Homo sapiens: one gene and its partners. The protein of the gene in region 4 binds, or shares a complex with, the protein of the main gene of each other region. Each region holds a gene or a part of one and is shown on either strand. Other genes may lie near its edges.

What was found.
Region 1: the proteins of NRIP1 (region 4) and RORA are in contact, whole or in part, in a crystal structure (PDB 4S15), measured with the Homo sapiens proteins. Residues at the interface, in NP_001426204.1 of Homo sapiens: Thr499, Leu500, Leu501, Gln502, Leu504, Leu505, His507; in NP_599023.1 of Homo sapiens: Gln332, Val335, Lys339, Phe344, Met345, Gln349, Gln352, Ile353, Leu356, Pro505, Leu506, Glu509, Leu510.
Region 2: the proteins of NRIP1 (region 4) and ESRRG are in contact, whole or in part, in a crystal structure (PDB 2GPP), measured with the Homo sapiens proteins. Residues at the interface, in NP_001426204.1 of Homo sapiens: Ser378, Leu379, Leu380, Leu381, Leu383, Leu384, Lys385, Ser386, Gln387; in NP_001429.2 of Homo sapiens: Val277, Ile280, Lys284, Phe289, Leu294, Gln297, Met298, Leu301, Gln302, Lys448, Leu449, Glu452, Met453.
Region 3: the proteins of NRIP1 (region 4) and PPARG are in contact, whole or in part, in a crystal structure (PDB 9CWN), measured with the Homo sapiens proteins. Residues at the interface, in NP_001426204.1 of Homo sapiens: Ser130, Thr131, Leu132, Leu133, Ala134, Leu136, Leu137, Ser139; in NP_056953.2 of Homo sapiens: Val321, Gln322, Thr325, Lys329, Phe334, Leu339, Gln342, Val343, Leu346, Lys347, Pro495, Leu496, Glu499, Ile500, Lys502.

The regions. Positions count from the first base shown.
Region 1 is NC_000015.10:60,487,758-60,491,312, reverse strand, and holds the end of RORA (nuclear receptor ROR-alpha), read left to right. Parts: 3' UTR 1-3,029; downstream 3,030-3,555. UniProt on the Homo sapiens protein: Nuclear receptor that binds DNA as a monomer to ROR response elements (RORE) containing a single core motif half-site 5'-AGGTCA-3' preceded by a short A-T-rich sequence.
Region 2 is NC_000001.11:216,720,420-216,728,202, forward strand, and holds the start of ESRRG (estrogen-related receptor gamma), read right to left. Parts: upstream 3,011-7,783; 5' UTR 2,881-3,010; coding exon 2,825-2,880; exon of another isoform or gene 2,821-2,824; intron 1-2,820. UniProt on the Homo sapiens protein: Orphan receptor that acts as a transcription activator in the absence of bound ligand. Binds specifically to an estrogen response element and activates reporter genes controlled by estrogen response elements.
Region 3 is NC_000003.12:12,285,029-12,292,088, forward strand, and holds the start of PPARG (peroxisome proliferator-activated receptor gamma), read left to right. Parts: upstream 1-4,041; 5' UTR 4,042-4,106; intron 4,107-7,060. UniProt on the Homo sapiens protein: Nuclear receptor that binds peroxisome proliferators such as hypolipidemic drugs and fatty acids.
Region 4 is NC_000021.9:15,054,983-15,062,018, forward strand, and holds part of NRIP1 (nuclear receptor-interacting protein 1), read right to left. Parts: intron 1-7,036. UniProt on the Homo sapiens protein: Modulates transcriptional activation by steroid receptors such as NR3C1, NR3C2 and ESR1. Also modulates transcriptional repression by nuclear hormone receptors.

The DNA of each region.
Region 1 (3,555 bases), on a different chromosome or scaffold from region 4:
TGCCATTATGTTGTTCTCTAAGAACAACTAAATTCTCTCCAGTGTTCATGTGTGATTCCTTTTTCATCATTATTACTTTAATGTGGATGAATACTATTTCTAGGAACTTGATTATCACTGAACAGATTGCATATGTAAATGCAGATAATTCTTGAGCAATATAGTGAAAATGATTTCACAAAAAAAATCCATATGTACTGTATACATCTTCCTGAATCCAAAATTCTCCTGTTATCCACACAGTTTGAAATCTCATATTAAACAGTGGTAAATTTTTAAACATTAGGACATTAGCTGGCTGCTTCTATAAATGTACCTGTATTGTCTGCCTGCTCCTTTTGTGGAGATGTGTTTTTGTATTGGATGTTTGGGCCAATGGGAGGCTTCAAGCTACAACATATTTTCCCACTTTAAATAATATTTAACATATGACAAACCCCAGACAAGGCTTTTAATATGTATAAAGAACTGCAGTGTTAGGTGGTTTATTTGCAAACTGTTTTCAGTGTTGTCCATTTTTATGGCACCTTTAACAATATTCTTGTTTCCAAAGTACAAAAAAAATAGGTTAAATAATCTAGCCATAACTGAATGTCAAGCAATAAAACAAATGACTTTTGTGCATAGACTTAAAAAATACAAATTTTAGACATCTGCATGTAAATGCAATCTCTTGTTTACTGCTTTCTTCAACTTGAGCAATCGATTCCTTATTTACTATTAACTTAAGAACTTGTAACGGCCTGTAAACATTTTCTCTCTTACTCTTCTTTCAAATTTACCTGTCCCTGCTTTTGAGTCATAATATTTAATGTTGTTCTGCACATCTCTATACAGTTAACTTTTTGGCTTTCATTCTGTATAGATAAGAAAATGTTATATTATAAACAGCCTACTCAGTGCAAATATTTATCTGTTTATCAAATCCACAATATGCTGTATAATACCGGTTTTACTATATAATCTATTTTAGACATAGCTGTTTAGAACTAGAGTGTGCTATTTTTGTGTTTTTCTGATGTGTGGTGCTAGACAAGTTACTTTTGTGAACAACAAAAATTATCCCTTTTATTCCTAGACAATACCACCTTTGGGTCTTGTTAATTTCACTGAGTATAACTATATATTTGTATATATATACATATATATATATATCTACCTATGCCCAACTGGCAGCTGTATCAGAGTGCTGGATTTGGGACATGCTTTTCTCTTTAAATACATAATATCATTATATAAATTATTCTAGAGTGTATTTAATTAGGATAAAATTACTTCCTTAGTATGGATATTTGACATCTATAGGGTGAATTTGTTTATAAATATGGCTATATGGAAACTTATTAGCATTTACTTTATGTTTGCTACTTGGCTTTACAGCATATCTCCTAAGCTGAAAAATAATTTGCCAGGCCTTCAAGATCCTAAAGAAACTTGTTTAATGGAGTAATATACTTTTTTTTCTTATTAAGGAATTGTATTACTGGCACCTAACACAGTTGTATTCTTAGCTCCTATTATAGATAATGGGCATTTACATAAAATATCCTAGATGGCTTGATGGCAGAATAAACCTTTCCCCTCCTACCTGAGTCATGAGAAGGATGGAGACGTCCTCTGCCATAACATGGGCCATAAAGCAAATTCGACATGGGATGTTCTGTTTCAGTATGACCTCAACCAGTTCCATGAACTGAGTGAAGGACCTTCATTTTCAAAGTTATTTAATAAGTAGCTTAATTAAGCCTTTCTACCCATTCTCCCAAGATCTACTGGCATTATTGAAAAGCAAAGTTTATCAAATATCTAACTAAGGATGTAGTTAACCTTATTAAATATTGATTAGAATTGTTCTGTAATATTACTGAATTTGTAAGATCTTTAGCAAAGATTTTTGAGCAATTTATAAATGTAGAGCAAATGTTTCTGTTTACTGCACTTTTTGTAACTGAAGGTGATAAATTCTCAAGCCATGATTATTGGCTTCCATGCACTGCAATATTTATCCACAATTCTAGACATTTTCCATTTTTGTGGAAGAGTTGCTGTTACCTTAATTATAAATGCAATTGTGTGGTTAATGAGAGCTAATGCTAGTAGTTAACCTTTTAAAGTGGATTGGCTACAGTTGAGGGAGAAATCTCTTTTAATATAAATCACATCATTCCTTAACTGCCTCTCTTGGAAAGAGATTGAAACCTTTTTTTTAAAGCACGATTTAGCATCCTAAGCTTCCTGAGGGTAGAGATTGTATCTTTTTGCGTCTGCACAATGGCTAGCACATGTCAGCATTTGACAATTGTTAAATGATAACAAGTGTGCCCCAATTAAAACGTTTTTCCTGGGTTGTTTTGTTAAATTTACAAAGTAAGCCAAGCCTTACGGTTAACATTCTCCTCTACAACCAAGTATTAAAGCCACATTTAAAAAGACCACATGAAATGCTGATTCTAATTGTGTGTAGGTCTTGAGGATTAAGCACACAAATTTCACAAACTTCTGTTTGAGTAAACAAACTCAGCCTTCTGTAAATATACATGCAAGTTTGGAAACAGTAATACTGTACCTATAAATATATGCTGTCTGTTTTGTGTACAGTATGTAAAAACTCCTTTTCTGCCACACTAAAAATGCAAGCCATTTATGGGAATCCTAAAACTAGTATTGAACTAAAACTTTGCTAATGATCTTTATTAGAGGATCGTCCAACTTTTCACTTACCTTGGGTTTTCTTTTCAATTCACTCTTACACTAGTCTGCTTATTTCCAGCTGTTTATTTTATTGAGTCCTGAATTTAAAAAAAAAATATTTTGATTCATTTTGTAAATACAAGCTGTACAAAAAAGAGAGATTTAATGTTGTCTTTTAAATACTCCAATTTTCATTCTAATATGAATGTTGTTATATTGTACTTAGAAACTGTACCTTTAATATTACATTACCTTTATTAAAAGTGCATTGAACACATCAATTTTAGATGTGCTTTATGTACTGTTATCCTATAATAAAACTTCAGCTTCTAATGGAACACTTGCCTTGTTTTTCTTCTTTTTTCTTGGTTATTGAATTGGACTGTACATAGTTTCCTAGCTTACATCCTGTCTCTAGTGAAGGGTCTAGGAGAGAGTAGGTAAGTGTGGTCCAGACTAGCAGCACGGCATCTCCTGCGACTTTGTTGGAACTGGATAATCCCAGCACTACCCAGACCTACTAAATCAATCTGCCTTTTTATAGGATCCCAGGTGATCCGTATGCACATTAAAGTGTGAGAAGCACCGGTGTATACCACAGCACCTTTTTTTTTTTTTTTTGAGACGGAGTTTCGCTCTTGTTGCCCAGGCTGGAGCGCAATGGCGGGAGATCTCGGCTCACCGCAACCTCCCCCTCCCAGGTTCAAGCAATTCTCCTGCCTCAGCCTCCTGAGTAGCTGGGATTACAGACATGCACCACCACGCCCGGCTAATTTTGTATTTTTAGTAGAGACGGGGTTTCTCCATGTTGAGGCTGGTCTTGAACTCCTGACCTCAGGTGATCCGCCAGCCTCGGCCTCCCAA
Region 2 (7,783 bases), on a different chromosome or scaffold from region 4:
TCCAAGTCTAGAGTTTAAGTATTCTTACTTGAAAAAATAAACTTAAAGTGTCTGTTCAGAGTTCTCAAATAATATCACATCTAAAGTGACTTGGCCAAGCTCTTATCATTCCCTAAAAAAAAGGCATCCCCTCTGATCTCGGCTTTTTTGTTGTTGTTACTGTTACTGTATAAATTTTTTCTTTCTGCCTATTTTATCACCTATAATTTGACATTATGGAATTACTTTGGGATTGTCTTGTTTTTTAATTAGTATAGATTTTAAAAAGAAGAGATGAGAAAAAGAAAAAACATGAAAACCCTGAAACAGAAAGAGTGAAACATACAAAATAAAACTTGTGTAGCTCCAAACACGAATCTTAAAACACGAAACTTAAATTTTCAATGTCTGGACTTCAGTGATCAGGCTGAAATTTACTAAACTGTTCCCTCCTCGCCTTGTCTGTTTTGGAGTGTTTCAGTTGCCTTTCCTTCTTCCAACAGCTGTGACAACTGTTAAAACAGTCAGTAAAATTAAGTCCGCTCTATAATCCTGTAGTCAATGTTACATTTTAATCAGAGGTTGAAAGGGATTCATGTGATGAGCACACTCATTTAGAATGATTAGACTGACACATATGTCAAAATGAGCAGATATATTATTTTCATCTATTTATGCTATCAGCTATTACTGCTATTAAATGTGAAACAAGCTTTCAAGTATTATGTTCTTTAATGTGCTGGCACATTTCCTAAAATAAAAAAATACATAGTTAGAGGTTAACATTTTAAGCTCTCTTAATGGTGGTCAATAAATGGTATGAATCTTTTTAACAGCCTCCAAAGCAGAAACTGTCCAATATTTGCCCCTAAAACTGTATAACTCTGGTTTCATTTCTGTGTATACACACACGTGATGGGGTTTAACCCGGTACAATTACTATGAATATTAATAGCATGTATAAATTCTGTGGTTTATTAATTGAGACAGAGAGGCAGATGCGTTGCTTAGCGTTAGATCTTTCTGTCTGTCCAGTGAACCACGTAACCATCAGAACTGCATCCAGACAATAAATCTGTATTTTTTAAAGATGACTTTTAATTGAGCCCAAAAGAAAGCTAGTTTGAATCTTGCGCCAAAGCCAAAAGGACATGTGCCTTGACTTCATTTAAATGCATCTGCTTTAAGAGGCTTATCTAAACGAATTATTCAAATTAGCTATAAGAAGTTAAATTCAAGGAAACTACTTCAAAAAGAAGCCTCTGGGGGATTTTTAAAGTTTGTTTTCTTTATTTATTTACAAGAGAAAGTTCAGAATCTGGGCGTGCTTGGATAAGACATTCTTCCTGACACGAAGACGTCTTAAACTCTCCAATTCTACAGCCCGAAGTACACTAACCTTCAAACTACACTTGAGCGGGCAGTCTTACCTTTGTTTATTTTTCATTTTTATTTTTACACATCTTAAGGTTGTTTCTTCCCTTGAGTGTTTCAAACTGATGCAAGCACAGCCTTATAATCTTTCAGTTCCTCCTAAATCCATCTCTTGGCTAATATTCCCTGTGTGAGCATGGATGTGGGTGGATGTGCATGTGTGAGCGTGCATACACACACACACTCACACTCACGCTCAAACATACAGGAGCAGCCACTGAGACTGCAAGTCACTTTTCATCTCTTACTTAATTACAAAGCAATGCAATATGCAGTCACTAAGGACAGCTAGTGGACATCTACCTATAATGCACTACCTCATCTTCTAGAGTTTGATATTTTCTTCACAATCTATAGAGAGAAATGTTTGCCAAGGGCACTCTTTTCAGAATTATAACAGTTGGTATTACTGTAATGTGAAAGCAAAGCAATATAACTGACTCAACAGAAAGGGAGATAAACCAGTGACAGCTCTCGTGATATACTAACATTTTATCTTAACAGTAGGTTGAAATTAAGTTTATCACCTACTCATTTACACAAAAATGCCTAACTTACTTCTCGTACCCCCTACTCACTCCCCCCCCTTTAGTAATCTAAATATATATTTCCATGTGCATAAAGATATCCATAAATACTAATTAAACTGCTTGTAAGAACGAAAGTACTTTTCTATATTTTCTGGACACAACAAACGAGACAAATCCACACTCTGAGCAGTATTTAAGGGGAAAATTTTAAAGTCACTACTGTTTCTTCTTTAGTTTTTTTTCCCCCCTTAAATATTTATAATGTGTGAAAATCTCATGTTACTTAATGGACTGATTTGTCAGTTAAGTGCTGACTTAACGCTAACCATGCAAATAACATTATTCTAGCTCAGAATTGCATAGGGCTAGCTTTTAAATTGTTCTCTGAAGGAGAATTAGTAAATGTGCAATTTTGCCTCTAACTCTGCGCGGTAAGAAATGACAAGGAGCTGAAAATATCTGTCAAACTGCAAATACATAAGAGGCCCTCAATAGTATAAATCATTTTGAATATTGTATTTTAAAACATCTTTCCTTGGGAAAATGGGTCCTAGTAAAAGATGCATTTTAACAGTTCACTAAGCATTTGTGCCAAGTGCCTATTCTTAGCACCTGAATAAGAAGTGACTGTCACACAGCTGTTTTACTGACAGTCACTGAGCTTTGCCTCAAAGGTAACATTGTAGTCAGAGAACAATTCTCGACTTACTGAATTAGGAGATCACCCTCAACACAAAAGACACAAGACAGACACAAACAAGCAGTCGTGCACACAAAATACCCAGGGCATTACCTGAATCAGTGTGTAAAGATATAGTCTGTCCGCCCCCACCCCCGCACCCCCACGACGAGTTTAAAAAGGAAAGAAAAAAGGTACCTACTCTTCCTCGTAGTGCAGGGAAAAAGATTCAGGAAGGCAAAGTTCTACCGAATCCATGTGCGACCGGCAACCATTATTTGTGCACCCCAGCTATAAATCAAAGTTTCCTTGACAGAGCACAGTGCAATTAACACAAATGTTCTCCTAGTGACAAGCCTATAGGCACAGCCAGTTGGGACCAAAGCTCTCACACTCTCCTAATCAAGGACTTAAAGCCCCGATTGGAGCTTATTAATATGAAGTAGGGCTTTACATATGCAGTCCCACCGGCCCAGCCGCGCAGCCGATTGGGGGGCCTCTGCCCAATCAGGAGGGAGGCGACGGGAGGCTGCACGGAGCGAGAGGAGCCAGGCAGGTAGGCAGGGTGCAGAGAGCCGAAGGGGGCTGGAAACTGAGAGTGGGCAGAGAAAAAGGGAGCGGAGAAGGGAGCGATTGAAACGCTCCCAATACACACTCTCGGGTTTGATTTTTTTTCCTCCCTTCTCTCTCTTTCTTTTTTTTTTCTTCTGGGAAGCTACAAAAGAAACATAACTAACTTAACTCTCTAAGCACTGGAGGGATTTGCCTTTGATTTCTAACCTAAGATCTCTTTTGCCTTGAAAAGGAGAACTCACGCAGACTCTCAGTTAATTTGGGAAAGGATTCTGCGGAAGGTAGAGAATTAAGTTTGTCCTGCCGTTGTCTGTGTTTTTATTACACCGGGGGCCGCGGCTTATTTGGTGCTGTACTTTCTCATGTATTCCTAATCATGTCTTTTCCTGTTTTCCTGATGTATGCTGGGCATTAAAAATAATAATAATAAAGGCATTCTTCTAAATTGTTTGAGCATGTGAACTGGGATCGTCATCTCTGAGGTGGAATGCAGTTTTACACAACTACAGAAGAGGAGATAGTGACAATACAATTTGAAAGAATGCCTAAGTAAATTATATGTGTAAACCTTTCTATACCTGCGACTGTCTCTTTACATATAGATACAACGCATAGCTTTTCAAAACAACGGTAAACAGCCGCAGGACAAATTGGCTTCTTCAGTTTTAGGGGTGGGGAGTCTGAGGGCTGTGGGGGTAAATAGCGAATTAAATCTCTCTCGATGCATTTTGACAAAATAAAGACAGCATTTTTTTTTTTTTTTGTAGGGAGAGCATTACTAAACAGTGCACTAAAAGTATTCTTAATTATATGTATATATTTCAATACAAGCTTCCAAACTAGGAGGCATATAATTTTATATATGATTTTACCCAAAACATCCTGCTTTCAAATAAAACACAGTGTACACATTTGTTTCTATACATAAGGCACCCTATATGCTTTAAAAAAATCAACCCAGAAACATTTTATAAACCATCACACAGTCTGGTCACTATAAGAACTAGTTTCAAACAGATAATAATTTACAAAACTAAGAATTCTCAATCAAAAGTGTTCAAAAAAATAAAAATAAAAGGAGGATATAAGAGGACAAGTGTGTTTTTTCCTCCTTCAATTGTGTACACCGTGTCTTTAATTTCCATATAACAAAGAGTTTGCTTAGGTCCTATTTTAATCTACAGGATTTTTTTATACTAGCAAATGTACATTGGAATAGATACCAGCTATTTATGGCAAAGAGATAACTGCTACCTTATGGAGAGTGAAAAACCCACAATTTTGATATAATTCAGCTCTACTGCTTATCAACCTTTTACATCTTAAGTCCTACATGATAGAAATAGTATAATCTTTGAGATCAAAATAAATTAGTTCAGATATTCATCGTATGTTAAATTCACTAAATTAGGACTCAACTCCCTTAACCCTCTCAAATTTTCTAGGTCTTTAAAAAACCAAAACACTAAAATAGAGCAGCCACATTAAAATTCAGAATATAAAAATGACAGACATGATTTGGTCCCCCCACAGAAGAAAGCAATTTCACTGCCTTGTATTTAGCTATATCTAAGATATAGGCCTAATTCCTTTTATTTGTGTTCTAAATGCATACAAAGTTTCTAGATCAGAACTCACATAGCAAAAACTGTGCCTCAGAATACTGTATAAAAGCAGGTAGTAAAAGCTTAATTACCAGTAGCATTATGCTGTCTATATTGTTAAATGTGAACTCTGCAATTAAGATGTAAATTTGGTTGTGAGCAGTGAATTAAAAGAGCTTTGAGATGTAGAAGAAAATCCAAGCATTCTGCAGACACTGAGAGAAAAAAAAAATTGTCTATTCAATCTAAAATAAGACACGTAATCATTTTACAATTAAAAAATAAATAAAACAGGCATTTTGCAAAAGAAACATGATTTTTCTAAAATACACTCAAAGAAATATGGAAGCTAATACTGCATTACAAAGACAGAAAAACATCCTTTGATTCATATGATTACTATCGTGATTTCTGAATAAACTAAAATTCTCAGGGTAATTAATAGATTCAATTGCACATACTTTAAAAAAGATACACACACACACAAAAAAGAAAGAAACTTTCCTTCTTGGTTTGGCTATGGATATTTCTTTAAAAAATATAAATTATTTAATGTACTCAATGCATCTTAATGTACTCAAAGAATGCATTCCGATTTTGCACCGGTGCAGAATCCTGTACTGTGTTCAGTTTCTTTACATTATGCTGTGACAGAACCTCTTTATTACTCCTTTGAAATGGCTTTTTAAAGACAAGATTTGTAGTGTATTTACCGGTGGATCTCAAGTCACCAAATGTCGTACAAGTGATCTTTAATTTCCCATCATTTTCTTATTTCCCTTTGGGTACTTATTTGCCCTCATTATGATCCATTTGACTTCACTGGTGTATATTTTTAAAGATATTTAGACTCATGCGTAAGTCATTGTTCTGTGCTCACAGAGATACATGTACAAACATACATAGTGTCATCCCCACTGATTTTTCACTAACCATATTTCATCTACGCAAGGTGCAGTGTTCACTGAACTCGCTGCTTTCTGAGTGACCAGATGTGTACTAGGTTTGTAGACTTGGATATTTTCCCCTTGGGATCAAAGTATCACCTGTACAAGTCAAGGACCTAAAGACTGTACTTACTGTCTTGAATCCAGTTTAACCAATTTAAAATTTTTAAAAATCCTCTTCACTAAACTTGTGAGACAGCTTCCAGAATATTTTACAAATACACAGCTCAGTCATCTCAAGAAACTTCCCTGGTCCCAGATTTTTCTCACCTTGCAGGAGAAAACAATGGATAATCATGGGAAATAAATGTGCCATGAGTAATACTGAGCTTAAACCTTCAAGAATCTCAATTACAAAAAAAATCTGGAAAAACAAATAAACAAACAAACAGATAAACAGCCTAGGATACACATATATTCCCAGTCTATACACTTCACAATCTTACCACAAGGAGTCTACCCAAATCAAGAAAAACTGAACCAAACAAAAGGATCTCTCATGATTGCTTCACAAAGAATATTAATAAATTAGTTAATATCAGTCTATTATGCATCAGGCTCTTGGTGTATGCATAGTTTCAATCTCTTCTTCCTTAAACAATGCAGTCATAAATATCCAAACAAATTCATTCTCAGTCCCCAACTAATGCACAGTCACCAAGCAGAGAATATACTTCATTTCTATTTCAAAGAACAGAATGAAAACAAGCAAAGCTCAAGTGGAAACAACAGGAAGATTCCTCTAGTCATATACACCAGACATTTTATTACATTTAAGTCAGAATCATTTCTTGCAACATTCTAACTAGGAATTCTTATGTTGCTAGAAGGTGATGAGAAATGCTTAGTCTTGCTGTTATTGCATATTAATAGCTATTTTTAGCTCCTATCTTTCTTTTCTGAAAATTAACAGGACTAACCTTCATTAAAATGTTCAAGTTTATCACTGTCATTTTTGAAGCAGGTTTTTATTTTATATTACACATTCATCATTTACTAAATATGTAAAACTAAACAAGGCATAACAAATTTAGATTTTCAAATTGCCTAGTAATCTTTCCTCAGGATTATAAAATCTTTGAAAAGCTGTTTAACTTTTTGAACTATTTTCCCTGCTGTTTTAAATGTATCATATATAGTATAATATACCATCCTGCAAAAAGCAAACCAAGACAATTACAAACTACTATCTTTAACTCCAAAAGACAACCTTGGGAAAAGAACCTAAAATGAGAAGCAAGGCACCAGGCTCCCTTCTACTCCTCATGAGCTGTGTGGCCATGGGTAGGTTGCCTCACTTATCTGTCCCTCATTTCCTCATCTGAAAATTGGGGTTTCTTTTGTGCTATAAACCTGCTTAAGAACACACCTTTCCCACTGAGAACACGCAGACTTCTTTCGAAGTCAGGATGACTACTTTACACTATATTACCACCAGCCCTCTATCAATTCATCATTCCTCATTTTCTGTTGCCTTTCATTTCTAGGGCACAGGCTTTGATATTTAAATTATTGTCTCGATTGGCAAGAAGCAATCATTTCTGCTGAAAGTGATCGCTTCCACAGAAGCACTAATAAAAACCCTTCCTTTTGACAAACCTCTTGTCCTATAAATCCATCCCATTCCCAAATTATGGAGCCTATATATAAAAAAAAGCCCATTCTCTGGGGAGCAACTGTCTCACCGACATAACACACTAAACTCTTTTCCCACTGTTTGTGAAAGTTGGAGGGGGAAAAAAAAAGAATCAGAGAAAGACAGAAACTAATAGAGGCAATTCAGTTTCTGTTTAATTAATTCAGGATTATTTCACCTTCGTTTTGTCAAACTAATAATACACATGGTGAAATGTCAGTAAAAATTAAATTATAAACTACAGTAGCTCCAATGGGAAAACTGACCTTAGTTAGGTTGTATTTCCATCATACTTACCCTGGTAAGATACCAAATGCATTTTACAGTATCCTACAAGCTTTCTATAATCTGCATGGCATGTATTTACAGAGCAATAGTTAACGTTTTGAGATTATACATTA
Region 3 (7,060 bases), on a different chromosome or scaffold from region 4:
GTCACCAAGGCAATGCAAATCAAAACCATGAGACACCGGCTCGGGCAACATAGTGAGATCCCATCTCTACAAAAGAATACAAAAATTAGCTGGTGTGGTGGCATGCACCTGTTGTCCCAGCCACTTGGGAGGCTGAGGTGGGAGGATTGCTTTAGCCCAGGAATTCGAGGCTGCAGTGAACTATGATTGCACCACTGCACTCCAGCCTGGGTGAGAGAGCAATACCTTGTCTCAAAACAAACAAACAAACAAAACCCCATGAGATATCACTTCATACCCTTTAGGTTGGCTAAAATAAAAAAGACTATAACAAGTGTTGACAAGGATGTGGAAAAACTGGAACCCTGACACATTGCTGGTGGGATTGTAAAATGGTGTGCCCACTTTGGAAAACAGACTGGCAGTTCCTCAAAAACACCGAGTTACCTTATGATCCTGCAGTTCTGTCCCTAGGTATATACTCAAGAGAAATAAAAATATATGTCCACAAGTAACCTTGTACATGAATGCTCACAGCAGCATTATTCATAATAGCCCATAAAAGTAGAAACAACCTAAATATTCATCAATTCATGGGATGAATAAACAAAATGTGGTATATGTGTATAATGGAATATTGACCATAAAAAGGAATGAAATATTAATATAAGCTATAACATGGATGAGCCTCACAAATACTATGCTAAGTGAAAGAAGAAAGTCACAAAGGACTTCATATTCTATGATTCTATTTATATGAATTGTCCAGAATAGGTAAATCTATAGAGAAAGAATATCTCTATCTAGAGTTGGTGGAATGACTGTTAATGGAGAGGGGGTTCCTTTTTGGAGTGATGAAAATGTTCTAAGGGTAGATTTGGTGATGATGGCACAACTCTGTCAATAAACTAAAACTCATTGAACTGTACATTTTATTTATTTATTTTTGAGATGGAGTCTTGCTCTGGGGCTGAAGTGCAGTGGCGCAATCTCGGCTTGTAACCTCTGCCTCCCAGGGTCAAGCGATTCTACTGCCTCAGCCCCCCGAGTAGCTGAGATTACAGGCACGTGCCACCACGCCCAGCTAATTTTTGTATTTCTTAGTAGAGATGGAGTTTCACCATGTTGGCCAGGCTGGTCTTGAACTCCCGGCCTCAAGTGATCCACCTGCCTCGGCCTCCCAAAGTGCTGGGATTACAGGCGTGAGCTGCCATACCCGGCCTGAATTGTACATTTTACTTCTATGGTATTTACATTTTAGATTATATTAATTATTCCTCAATAAAGCTGTGATTTTAAAAAGCAGGCTAGGCGCAGTGGCTGGTGCCTATAATCCCAGCACTTTGGAAAGCTGAGGCAGGAGGATCACTTGAGCCCAGGAGTTTCAGACTAGTCTAGGCAACATGTCAAGACACAGTCTCTACTAAACAATTAAAATTAAAAAAAAAAATTAGCCAGGCATGGTGGTGTGCACCTGTAGTCCCAGCTACTTGGGAGCCTGGGGTGGGAGGATTCCTTGAGCCCGGGAAGTCGAGGCTGAAGTGAGCCGTGATTGCGCCACAGCACTCCAGCCTGGGCGACACAGCAACACCCTGTCTCATGGAAGAAAGAAAGAAAAGAAAGGAAGAAAGAAAAAAAAAAAGCAGATTGGAACTCTGGAATTAACAAGAAGTAGGACGCACGGAGCACTTCCGCCTGAGTGGAGACTGTGGATCCGGGTCAACCTGACTACCTAAATCACAGGCCAATAAATGGTCTTTCAGTGGTCAGTCCCTGTAAGATCCGTGGCTCTCAGCTTCTTATCTTAGGGGCTGTGGAGGAAGGACATGATTATGTTGATTTAAGCGCTGAATATTTTCCCTTGTGATACCCATCCTCGCAAAACTTTGCTTCAACCACAAACGAGGACCTTCTGTACCAGAGGGGCAATAACCACAATGAAGCTAGGAAGAAATGCAGAGCACCCCAGCATACAGTCCATAAGCTTCCTGAAGTGGGGGGCCTCAGGCATCGCTGCCTCCCCAAAGAGGATCAGGCCCAGAACAGTATGCTCCAGAAATAAGACTGGAAAAAGGGAAAGAGGGGCCTCAAGTCCAGGAGACCAGCGGCTTTCTGAACGCGCACCTGCCAACCCACTTTGGACAGGTCACGATGGACAGCGTGGCAGGAAAAGAAAAGGTCACTGTCTACCCAACACATGAGAAACTGTTTCTCGTGCCTCACGTCCCCACTCCGTCCCCACCCATGTTGTCTGAGTCCCTCGGTGTCAGAAACACTGCTAAGAAATTTAAGAAATTCTGTTAATGAGTTTAAGAAATGTTTTTAATGATTAAAAGTCAGTGACTTGTGAATAACCATGTAACTTACAAACGCAAGGAACTCTGAAAGTGTGCAGCACCACCGATCAGAAGAGAAAACCAAGGGACCCGAAATATGCTTTAATTAAATTTTCTTTTAAAATGTCACTGGAAAGAACATCTTGGGAAGACGGCCTGGCCGATCGCCGTGTGAAGGGCAAGCCACTCTGGCCGAGAGGGAGCCCCACACCTCGGTCTCCCCAGACCGGCCCTGGCCGGGGGCATCCCCCTAAACTTCGGATCCCTCCTCGGAAATGGGACCCTCTCTGGGCCGCCTCCCAGCGGTGGTGGCGAGGAGCAAACGACACCAGGTAGCCTGCCGCGGGGCAGAGAGTGGACGCGGGAAAGCCGGTGGCTCCCGCCGTGGGCCCTACTGTGCGCGGGCGGCGGCCGAGCCCGGGCCGCTCCCTCCCAGTCGCGCGCCGCCGCCCCCGCCCCCGCCCCCGCCCCCGCCCCCACCCCCACCCCCACCCCCACCCCCAGCCGGCGCCCGCGCCCGCCCCCGCGCCGGGCCCGGCTCGGCCCGACCCGGCTCCGCCGCGGGCAGGCGGGGCCCAGCGCACTCGGAGCCCGAGCCCGAGCCGCAGCCGCCGCCTGGGGCGCTTGGGTCGGCCTCGAGGACACCGGAGAGGGGCGCCACGCCGCCGTGGCCGCAGGTCAGAGTACGGGTGCCCGCGGCGCTCGGGAACCGGCTGCTGGCTGGGCGGGGAGTGCTCAGGGAGGGGGCGCGGAGGGCTGGGGCCGAGGGTCTGGGGGCTAGGGCCGAGGAAACGGGAACTGACGGGGTCCCAGACGGATGAGAGCTGGGGAGAAGGGGGTCTCGGCTGAGGGGTCCGGGGCTGAGGCAGGGTCATGGTCCGGCAGGACCCGGACTGACGGGTCGCGGGCGGGCGGCTCACGGGTGACCGGGTGAAGGGGTCTTGGGCTGAGGGCACCCGGGCTGAGGGTCGCGTCTACCGGAGCGCGCACTAGGGGCGGAGGGCGCGGGCACAGAGAGCCGCGGCCGGTGCCGACTCGAGTGGACGCGAGCCGGTGCGTCCCGGCTTCCAGGACAGCCCCCCTCGGGAGAGCGCCGGGTGGGCGCGGAGCCGGGGACACGGGGACCTCCGCGTCCCCGGCGGAGGTGCGCAAGCGTCGGGAGCCGCTCCGGGGGAACTTTGGAGCAGGGTGTCTGGACCCGGGGAAGCGAAGATCCGCGTGCGTCCGTCCTGAGGCCGCGCGGCACCCCTGCTGAGGAGGAGGTCCCGTTCGCTGTCCAGAGCCCAGGGGCGACCGCCGCTTGGGGACCGGGGGACCGTTCAGCGAGGGGCGCGCTTGTAGCTGGCCAGGCCCTGTGCCCTGACGCGTTGTGCTGGCCCTACGCCCGGCGGAGGGGCTGGGGACGGGGACTGGGTGCCTCCGTGCCTCCGCGGATGGAGCGCGCAGCCAGGACCCCCAGCCGCACCCCGGGGGGCTGGAAAGGCGAAGTCGCTGCTTTGTGGGCTCCTGCAAGTGCCAGGCGCTGACCACTCCTCCTGGGAGCCTAACTGAGGGGGGTAGAGGCAGCAGAGGTTAACAGAAATCTCAGGTCCCTTGGTGGAAGGTGGGTGTGTAGTCGTGGTACTTTACGCCTCGGTGTTTAGGGAGGAGCCTAAGGTAAGGAGTCAGAAACGGGGAGTAACCGAGCTGCGGCTTTTATATAAGGTCAGTGGTAGGTAAGGAAGGGGCCTTAACCTCTGCTGGTGACCAGAAGCCTGCATTTCTGCATTCTGCTTAATTCCCTTTCCTTAGGTGAGTTGGCTCACTCTCATTGCATTTTGTTGGAATGTGTTGGTGATAGGTCCGAAATTTGCAAAATTATTGTATTATCCTTATATCATTTTTTTTTGCAGTGCTCTTGTTTTATAAGAAGAATCCAATTCACTTGGGTCATAGGCTAACGGTTGTAAAAATAGTGTCATTGTTATAAAAGAAATCAAGTCAAAAATAGTCGTCTGCCATGAAGAAACTAAAATTTTTCTTCTTTTCCTTGCAAGATTAGGGACAAAATGTAAAGTTTATTTGTGTAAATTATCATTTGGATATAAAACCAGACAATGATAAACTGAGTTGTATAATACCTATTCCTGGAAAACCTCTGATTTTGAAGTACATTATTTTAACCCCAACTGTTTCTGTCATTCGTGAGACAAATTGTTAACTGGATTTATTAAGAGAACAATGAATAACTTAACTCTTTAAAAGGACCTGGGCAAATCTTCGACAGGTTTCAGGTATTTTATGGCAGTCTTTCTGTCTATTGCTAAGTGATCGATTGCTGACTGAGAACAGAACCAACTGATGGTGCTAGATGATTTAGAAAACCTTTCTGGTATAGGGACTGGCATGGACATTCACTGTGGCTTTTCTCTTAAAGAAATACCTTTCACTCCTAGGGGAGTTTGACAGAAGACACTCATAGATGCTACCAGTTAGCATTTGGAGTAATATATCAAAACATTCTGTTCAAGTTTTAAAGTAAGTTTTGTGTAGTATATTTTCAATCAGATTCACTTTGGAATCAAATACACTTTATTTGATTCCAAATAAAGTGTATTTGAATATTCACTTTAATATACGAAACTTTAAAGGTAATGTCTCAGCCAAAAAGTGAAGTGTATTACAAAACTGTCCATTTTTGTCTTCTTGTGTACTTCACATAATTTTTCTCCCTGATTTAAATTATATGATATTTGATAGTTAACTTGCTAATAATTATGTCTTAAGAGATCTTTGAATCAACTGGTGGCCATCTCAGTCTTTTAAAACTCACTTGAAGGAAAAGAGAAACACTAATGATGGTTTTTTTTAAAATCAAAAACTTTTTTCATATTTACAAGTTTGTTTCTAGTTCTTAAACAATAACTGCTGTAAAACCATGGCATCAGTGAGGTATAAAGTTTTGTAGAATCCCAGGCTGAAGACTTTTTGGATGTCGTTTTCTCATTTCTTTACATTAAAAAGAATATAATTTCTTTTTAAAATTAAAACTAAAATGTCCACCGGCCTCATATTCTTTATTGAACTTAAGTGCTTTGAAAATATTTTTGCGATTGATATTTTTAATGATAAAATATAATATTTTCTTTGAAGGACTAGTTTCCTAAATGTTCATTTTTTTGTATGTTTCAGAACTACTTTTAAAAAAATTCTAGATTATGCTTTAAATTGCAATATTTCTAAATTCCTATGACATTTAAAATGTGTACAAGAGAAAAGGTGTGACATGAGGAATATGAATTAGAAGTGGATTACTAATGGTCGTAGTGAATTGTTTTTAATCAGTGTTATATAAATATAAACAAATACTTTTTTCTTCTGTAATTTTCTGACAATAAGGATGTTAGCCACTAACCTTAATTATCAAGATAATTATGTGCATGAAAGCTGTGTAAAAGGCACAACCGTGGAACATATACAAGTATTAATAATACATTTCATTTAGTTTTCAGGTTATAAAATCGTTATTAATAACAAGAGGCTTTCATGAAGTAGGAAAATATGTTAAAATGACATTTTCTGAATGTTTCACACATTCTGGCCCACACTTTCACTTCTTTCCTAGCATCTATATATTCCCAATGCATAGGACAGAGTTGGTCATTCTAATTGTGGGTGTCTTTCTGCTGGATTCGTTGTCACTTGGACTTGGAAATACAGTATGTCATTAGGTGTGGCAAATGTACTGGAAGAAGTTTTTGGTCTCATAGGATTCCACTAAATAAATATTAGCTGTAGAGGATTTTTAAAAACTCACTAATAGAGAAAACTTGGTGAAGTCACTAGTGTGTAAGCGTAAACATATGCACCCCCCACAACTGAATTTCTAATTTGCTTATTTTTCCTGGTAGATCTCCACTTTGCTTACTCTCTCTTAATATCCCAAAGCAACAAAAAGCGCAGTGATTTTAATTGCTTACAAAGGTCCTTTGAAACGGATCTAATTTGACTCCACAAAAGAATAGTAAGAGTTGTGAACAACCATCTTGCAAGTGTAGATATCCCCAGCGTATCAACTTCAGTTAGTTTCATAGCGTTCTAAATCAAAAATTTAGATTTAAGATTATTTGAAATCTTCTTGGAAGTTCTTACTTACTGTTTGCGTTTTCTCAAAATACAGAGGTAGATTGGGGGAGTAATATAGTATATGTTTTAAAGCTGTTATTTAACTAAAATGTCATGTTTTAAATTTTATTTAATGCACTTAAAGTAGGTTCTTGGGATAAAATCTATTCAGATGCAATAGGCCATGTTTTGGGGAAAACTTTTGTAGATGTTTAGATAATATCTGTCATCAATAATAGTATATGTTTAAATTATTTTGTAAAAACAGATTTACATATTTTTAAAATTTCTCTTCAACAATAAGTACACATCAATATTTTAATGCCGAGAATTTCATTCAGAGTATGACTGTTTACATTTTCAACTGTTTCAATTATTATGGCTTAGGCAAGTACCTTATCCTTTCTCTCAATTTTGTCATCTTTGAAACGGAGAAAGTGTTGCAGTTATTATTGCTTGCTCTTTTGCTATGATTTTAAGGCTTTATGAGCAAACCCATGTACTTTAAATGATGTGACCATGACCCTGAATTTAATTGAGCTGATATTCTGAAAAGAACCTTCATGAATATCTATGTCATAGCTAACTCTTTTACCAATGTTAATAGTTCACTGTAGTTCAAACCTCAATAACTTTGAGAT
Region 4 (7,036 bases):
TTTGTTTCACCAACATCAGGAACGTGGCCAGTGTGTGGTCCATGAAAAGGTCTACACATAGGTTTCTTCTCTCTTGCTCTCTTTTCTAGGGGTGTAGACCAACGTGCACTTGGTTCATGGCACATTATCACCACTGGTCCACACAGTGCCCCCTCATCTTATTTGTTACCTTTCTCAAGAGAATAGAGGAATGGGGTCCATAAACTTTGAGATATGTTTCCAGTTGAACCAACAGACCCAACCACCTACATTAATGGTGTTGGAATACTACTCATCAGTAAAAAGTAGAGCTGGCCTGTGAGTGTTCTGGTCAACTAAAGGTATCTGGCTCTCTTTGTCTGCAAATAAATAGCAAGTCTCCCTACTTCTTTTTAAATAAAATTCCAAATGTACGTAACATGTAAAACAATGCCACTGCATGAACATGTACATAACTGTACTATTCTTTTTTTAAATTCTCAGCCTGGAAATTACATTTCAAGTACTAGAATATTCAACAAATCCTAAGACTTTTATGAAGACCATGAGAAGAAAATAAGGTACTAGAACAAAAGTGATGCAGCCAGCCAATTCTCGTTTCATGTCTCAAGACCCAGTTCTTATTATTATAGATCCCTTTGTGGGGTTAGCTTGGATTTTACTGCGGGATCCATCACCAAAGGTTATTAACTATTCCTTAACACCTGGTACACAAACCCCTCTTTCTGAGACTGCTTTGACAAAAATAAACAAAAAAGTGTGAAATAAATCAAGATTTGACTGACCATCCTAGGTCTACCCAACTGCTAGCTGAATGACTTTCAAAACGTCTTTAAATTCTTAAGGACTCAATTTCTTCCTCCGTAAAATGCAGATAGTAACTGTTTTGGGCATTTTAACTTAACAGCAATAACAAAAACTACAGGAAGATAAGTAATTATTGACCCCATTGTATCACATGGATCCCCTGGCAATTAAAAAAAAAGATGAATGAGATATTAAGAAATAAAAAGGAAAACAGAGTAAAGACAAAACAGAAATAAAGAAGGAAACCCAAAAGGAAAGAAAATGGCACATAAGCACTAAATGGTAGCATTTTATCATTATTTTATTTATAGTCTACACTAACTGTGTGCTCTTCCATACAAAAGATGCATCTAAAAACTAACTTGTTTGATAAATGGGGGGAGGACAAGGTGCCTCTAAGATAGGTGTGCTTAAATCCAGAGCAGCCGTAGCTTTTATCAAATTCTCTTCCAACCTGAAAAATCTAACGATTCTATGAAATAACTTCAATTTGTGAAAGCCCAAGCAAAAGAAATTCAAAGTTAAAAAAAAAAAAAAAAGAAAATGTGACTTTGACTCAGGTCAGTCAAGTATTACCAGGATAGATAAAAGTAGATTTTTAGCAATACAGTTAACAATGGGTCTTGCCACAATAATAGCAAACATCCAGATATTGGAAAGGAATCAGATGGTAAATTTAAAAAAGACTGTTTTCAATCCTTATATTTGGCTTCACATAGATTCAGTGTATTTTAATTCATTTTTTTTTAAAAAGCATGGATCAGTTAAGGAAATAATATAAGTTCATTCTGATCTTTAGGAAGACATTCTTCCCCCCATATTGTTCACTTTGACAATTTCTCTTTTTTCTTATTTGGCCAAAATATAACGTATTCTCTAAACAAAACACAGATGTTTCCTTTGCAGCTTTTATACAAATCTCTTGCTTTTCCAACATGATTTGGCAACTCAAAATCCAAAGCACCCTAGAAAATATTATGTTTACACGTCTTATTATTCATCTTTGTGTCTCCAATATAGTTTCAATTTGACTATACCTTTCAGTGTATAGGGAACCACTCAGCTTGAATCTTTTAGGTTCAAAAATTCCATAAATTTTAAATGAGGCAAGTAAAAGGAGGTGGAGAAGCTCATAACTCCATTTCTTATGGCTTTAACAATAAAAGAACGTACCTGGTATGTACTTAAAAATGTACTATGTGCCACAAAGCTCCCCCACTCAACAATCTCCCTCCTGACACAGTCTACCCTCAAAATAAAGTCAACTACTCCTCATCTCTCTGCTTCCACTTCCTTCCAATTCACAAATACATTGTTAATTTCCTCTTTGCATTTCAGAGAGCAGTTTATCAGCACAGGATAGTCTTTAACAAAATTGTTGTGAGTGAAGATAGGGTAATTAAAAAAAAAATCATGTTAAGAACTGTTAATAGTCAAGAGTTGTAACTTTTCAACCAGGAAGAGCTATGGTTCTGAATTTGCTACAACTGCTCCTTGAAGTGGACAAACATAACTAGCCTTGGGAACACTCAGTTTAAGACCATGACAAGCTATTTCAATGAATTATATAAAGAAACATAGTTGCTTTCACTGCCTCAAATAACACCGCAGTAATTCTGTGATACACTTCAGAAGAGTTAGCACTGGAGGGAAAAGAGCCTGTGCGGCAGCCCTTGGTGACTACATTTCCCTCCAGCGCAATGCAGGTAGCAGGACATCAGCGCTTTGAGAACTAGCATAAGCTGCTGCAGAATCATCGACTGGCAACAATGTGCCTTCCCAGAGAGCCTGGTCTTGGAGAATCCAGGCTATGAGGCTTGCAAATGCTGCATGAGTTTTATGGCTACCAGGTTGGGAGCAAGGTTTTTTAACGGCTTCCTGAATGTCAGATGGCAACTGGTTTTTTCTTCAAACAATGGCATATTCTTTAAGAAAATCAAATTATCAATGAAATTTGCCATGTGACCACAGGCAAGTTAACTATTCTTGCATTTTTCAGACTAGGTTTCCTTATCTCTAAACTAGAGAAAATGATACCTACATGTCACAGGGGAACTGGAAGGATTAAAAGACAAAATGTGTGTAAAGCTTCCAGCACAATGTCTGGCACAAAACGGTTGCCCCAAAAAGTTCAATACTCTTCCTTTCCCTGCTCCCCCTCCCAACAAAACAGGAAAAGGCAACAGCCAAGTAACTAAACAACTTCTTAATATTCCAAGTTTCTACCCAATCATCTCTTCTTCTTTTAAAACCACAGGCTTGAAATCTTTACTGTTTACTGTCAACAACGGCATATACTGCTGTACAGTCAGAATTTTAGAATTTAGAAATCAAATATAACCCCCTTATTCAACAGATGCTGCCGGGGGAGATAAAAGGGCTTTCCTTTTATCTGTATCATCTTGATTTAGTAGCAGAACCTAAACTCGAAAAATAAACGTGGAATAACAGGAATACTATTTTTTAACATGTTTTTCAAAAATCAAACCTGAGCCTACATAACCCATTGTGCAAACAGTCCCTTTAGGAGAAAAACTGCAACTGTGATTAATTTCTCTCAAGAATATTTATTTCCCATTTGGAGAGTTTCACATGTTTCCAAACATATTTTCTTGATGTCCTCCATGTCATTGTGTATTCTCTCCTTCCCTTAATTTGTTTCTTTTCCAGTGTATAAATCTATTGCTCTATTATAGATTATTATAATATAAACTCATAAATTCAGGAATTTAAAAAAAATCTTTAAAAGCATGCTTCTCAGAAATCATTACACTCTGTTAAACACTTGCTATCTCTCAACTTCTAGATAGATTCCTCAAGAGAGAAGTCCTTTTTTCATTCTGAACTTCTAATTCTCAAATTTTGATTGTGTCCTGTTAGTTACCAAACACACCATTATACTACTACTCTCATTTCAATATTGTACATAAACGATTCCCCATCTTACTAATGAAATGCTTTTTTAAAGCAGTAACATATTTAACATGTGCACATGTTATGAAGAGTATAGGCAAACTCAACTATTAAAAACATGTAACTATAAGGAAAGCCATCTTAGACACTATATGTGACTACAGCTAAGCTTTTCTCTTAAGTATCTAAAGCAAATCACCAGACTTTTACATAGTACCCTCACATAGCTAGATAAGAAAGTAAAAGTAAAATAATGAAAGCAGACTCTAAACAGCAGAAGCTCCAAACTCCTTAGTTTCTCTGTTGTGCTCAATCCTTTAGCAAATTACAGGCCTGAAAACAAGGAGTAGCTCTATCACTTAACAAGTGACTAAGGAATGACTTTGTTAATTAGAAGTCCAAGGGTGAGAGGCTCCTTTCCACCAAAGCTCTGAATAAACATCAACATCAGGTCAACCAGAGTTGTCTTGGTCCCAGGAGTAGCTTAAGCGGATGACTCAAATTCCCAGCAGAATTCTAGTTTAATATTTATTGGAACTCCGAGCTTAGTCACACAGTGACTTGGAATTTAAGACACATGGGGTCTCTTCTTTCCATCCTTAAAGATATTTTTGCTAAGTGACACAAAGTTAAAGAGGCAAGATGGGTTTTAATTTAGAGTTTTTATTCCCTGAGGTGTAAGAAATTAAAATTTTATTTTCTGGGGAGAGTGAACCATACTAGCTCTGAATTTCAAACACAACTATTAACCCTGTCAGATAATTCTATTATCAAGTTTTACAAAACTGTTTACTATTATTATTTTTTTTTGCTACCCCAGCCCTATGTATTGAAAGTGGAAAGAAGGAAGGGAGGGAAGGAGGGAAGGAGAGAGGGAGAATGGATGAATGGATGTATGTCACAATCACCTTTCTAGCCAAAACTGCAACATATGCTGGAGTTCTTGAAATTATTTCAACCAAAAAAAGAATCACAGGACTCATAATTTGTTTAGCAGGTAATTATTTGCCCCATTATCTTCAAGAACAATCTATCTTAAAACTGTGTATAGCTTTTTAAGAAATCTTAATACTAAGAGGATCCTTTTTTTCATAACCCCAAAGAGTGTTTTCTTCCTCTATTTTTGAATTGCCAGCCTTCTCAATTCTTTAAATCTGATTCACATTATACTACTTTTAGAGTTCTAGGCTAAATGTTTATCCATAGCATGATTCAAGGTATTAATTTCAACAAAATACTAATATAATGATAAAATGTATCACATTTATTTTCAACTCTTTCCTATTCTTCTGATTTAAGAACTTAAAGAAAAATATTTTATGTTTCGGGTGCATTTTGATAAGCTAAAATACCACAACTTTTGTAATTCTTCATTTGTAATATTTGCAAGATAGTGTAGGGATCAATTTGAATTTCAAGGTTCATGATATAGAGTATGTACCATAACAGTGAGAAAAGTTAGTATAAATTCCTACTCATCTCAGTTTCTATATTTATTGCAACAAATTAAAACTGCATTTCATAACTCGTAGTAAAACAAAAGGAAAGTTCTGTTTTAAATAAACTCCAACCTTCAGAATCCTATACATTCAGTATCCATCAACCTGAACACTAAATTTCAAGAAAAAACAACAGATGGGCATCCATATAATAGTTTGCAAAGAAACCCTGATAAGACTTCAGGAGTTTCTGTGGTCTCTATTTTCCCCCTACCATGAATCATAGGTAATGTGCTTAAATAAAGCATTATTTCTGCAGTTATTTACATGTTTATCTTTATCAGAGATCCTATAAAAGAATTATCCAGTTCACCACCCAAACTTTAGCACTCAGAACACGGTTTTCCCTGTTGATGAAGACCCTTGTAAAATTCCAGATCTTAAAAGATTAAAGAAAATGTGATCTAATATTAATTCATTTTCCTCCAAAGTATAACTCCTGATTCCATGCTGGTACCCAATTTTGATCCTCTACTTTAAAGATATCTCAGAGACATTCAAAACAAAGTGTGAACATGCACAAAAGGGGAACTTGTCGTTTCTCTCCCTCAAACAACCACTATTTATATAATATTGCTGGCCTCCTAAAAGAGAATAGAATCCATTACCATCAGCAATTCATGTCTCTGCTTCAGCATCAGATGCAAACAGGATACAGAAACTAGATCTCTCTCCTCCATTTACTTTTTGTTCATTCCAACCTCTCGACATAATCTTCAGTTCCATTCCAATGGCCTGTTTCACCATCTGACACTCCTGGTTTTTACCTTCTCAAGTCTTAGTGGCCATAGTGGTGTTACATTTCTCTAATTGTTGTGTTATCTAAATACTACAGGATGAGCCTGCTCATTCCCCCTCCCCCAAAAGTCCCTGAAAAAACTACAACTTAAGGAAATGCAACTTGAACCTTTTTAGTTCACAGATTCAAACTCATATCCTGCAAGACCCTAGCATATCTTGTTGAAAATTTTCTTTGACTTTTCAACAGTAGTCAAGATTATTTTAATGAAAATATTTCTCCAGTTGGAAGACATGGGTATACAGGACTTTGCTAGAACGGCAAATGCTTTTTCCCAGTCTTCATCCGTGTAACAGTAAATCGTTATTAAACAAACACACAGAACAAAACCCACTCTGATTGTGTATCAATCACCTGAAGGGGCAGAAGGGAAAAGTACAAGAGTGAAGAAACTTCTCCCCACCCACAGCCAAGAAGGAACGCTGCAACTAAGGCAGTTTTTCATGGAAGAAAATATCCAAAGATCTAGACAGTGTTTATTTTAGAAAAGGGGAAGAGAGCAAGGGAGGGAGGGAAATGGTAGGGAAGGGACTACCATTTCCTCTTACTAACCTACATTAAAAACTAATTGTATCAAGCAATCTCAAATGCGAAAAGCAAAACTGACCCTAGCACAATTTAAAGTGAATAATGTTTTCCTTGACAAAAATTCGGTATTTTAAACTCATTCTGAGCAAAATTATCTTTTAACCTGATACACCAAACTATTACTGCTTTTCCCAAACAACAGTTAGAACATGAGCTTTTGAGTTTCTTACATTCTTTACGTTTTAAAATTAAAAGCCAAATTCCTTTAACCTCATATATCCTAAGCCACTCTGATTTAAAATTACTTCTATGTCATTGTCTTCTAGCATTGGTCTGCAATAGAATCTGTGCAATTAACAATAATCTTCTTCCCTCTGATCTTTCTAGAGTCAAGGATGGCATATCTCCTTATCTTATTTGTTCCATTAGATTGGCATATTTTGCCTCATCTGTCACCTTCTATCAAACTCTGCTTTCAGATATGCGTTAATTCATTTTTAGTTGTCCTCAA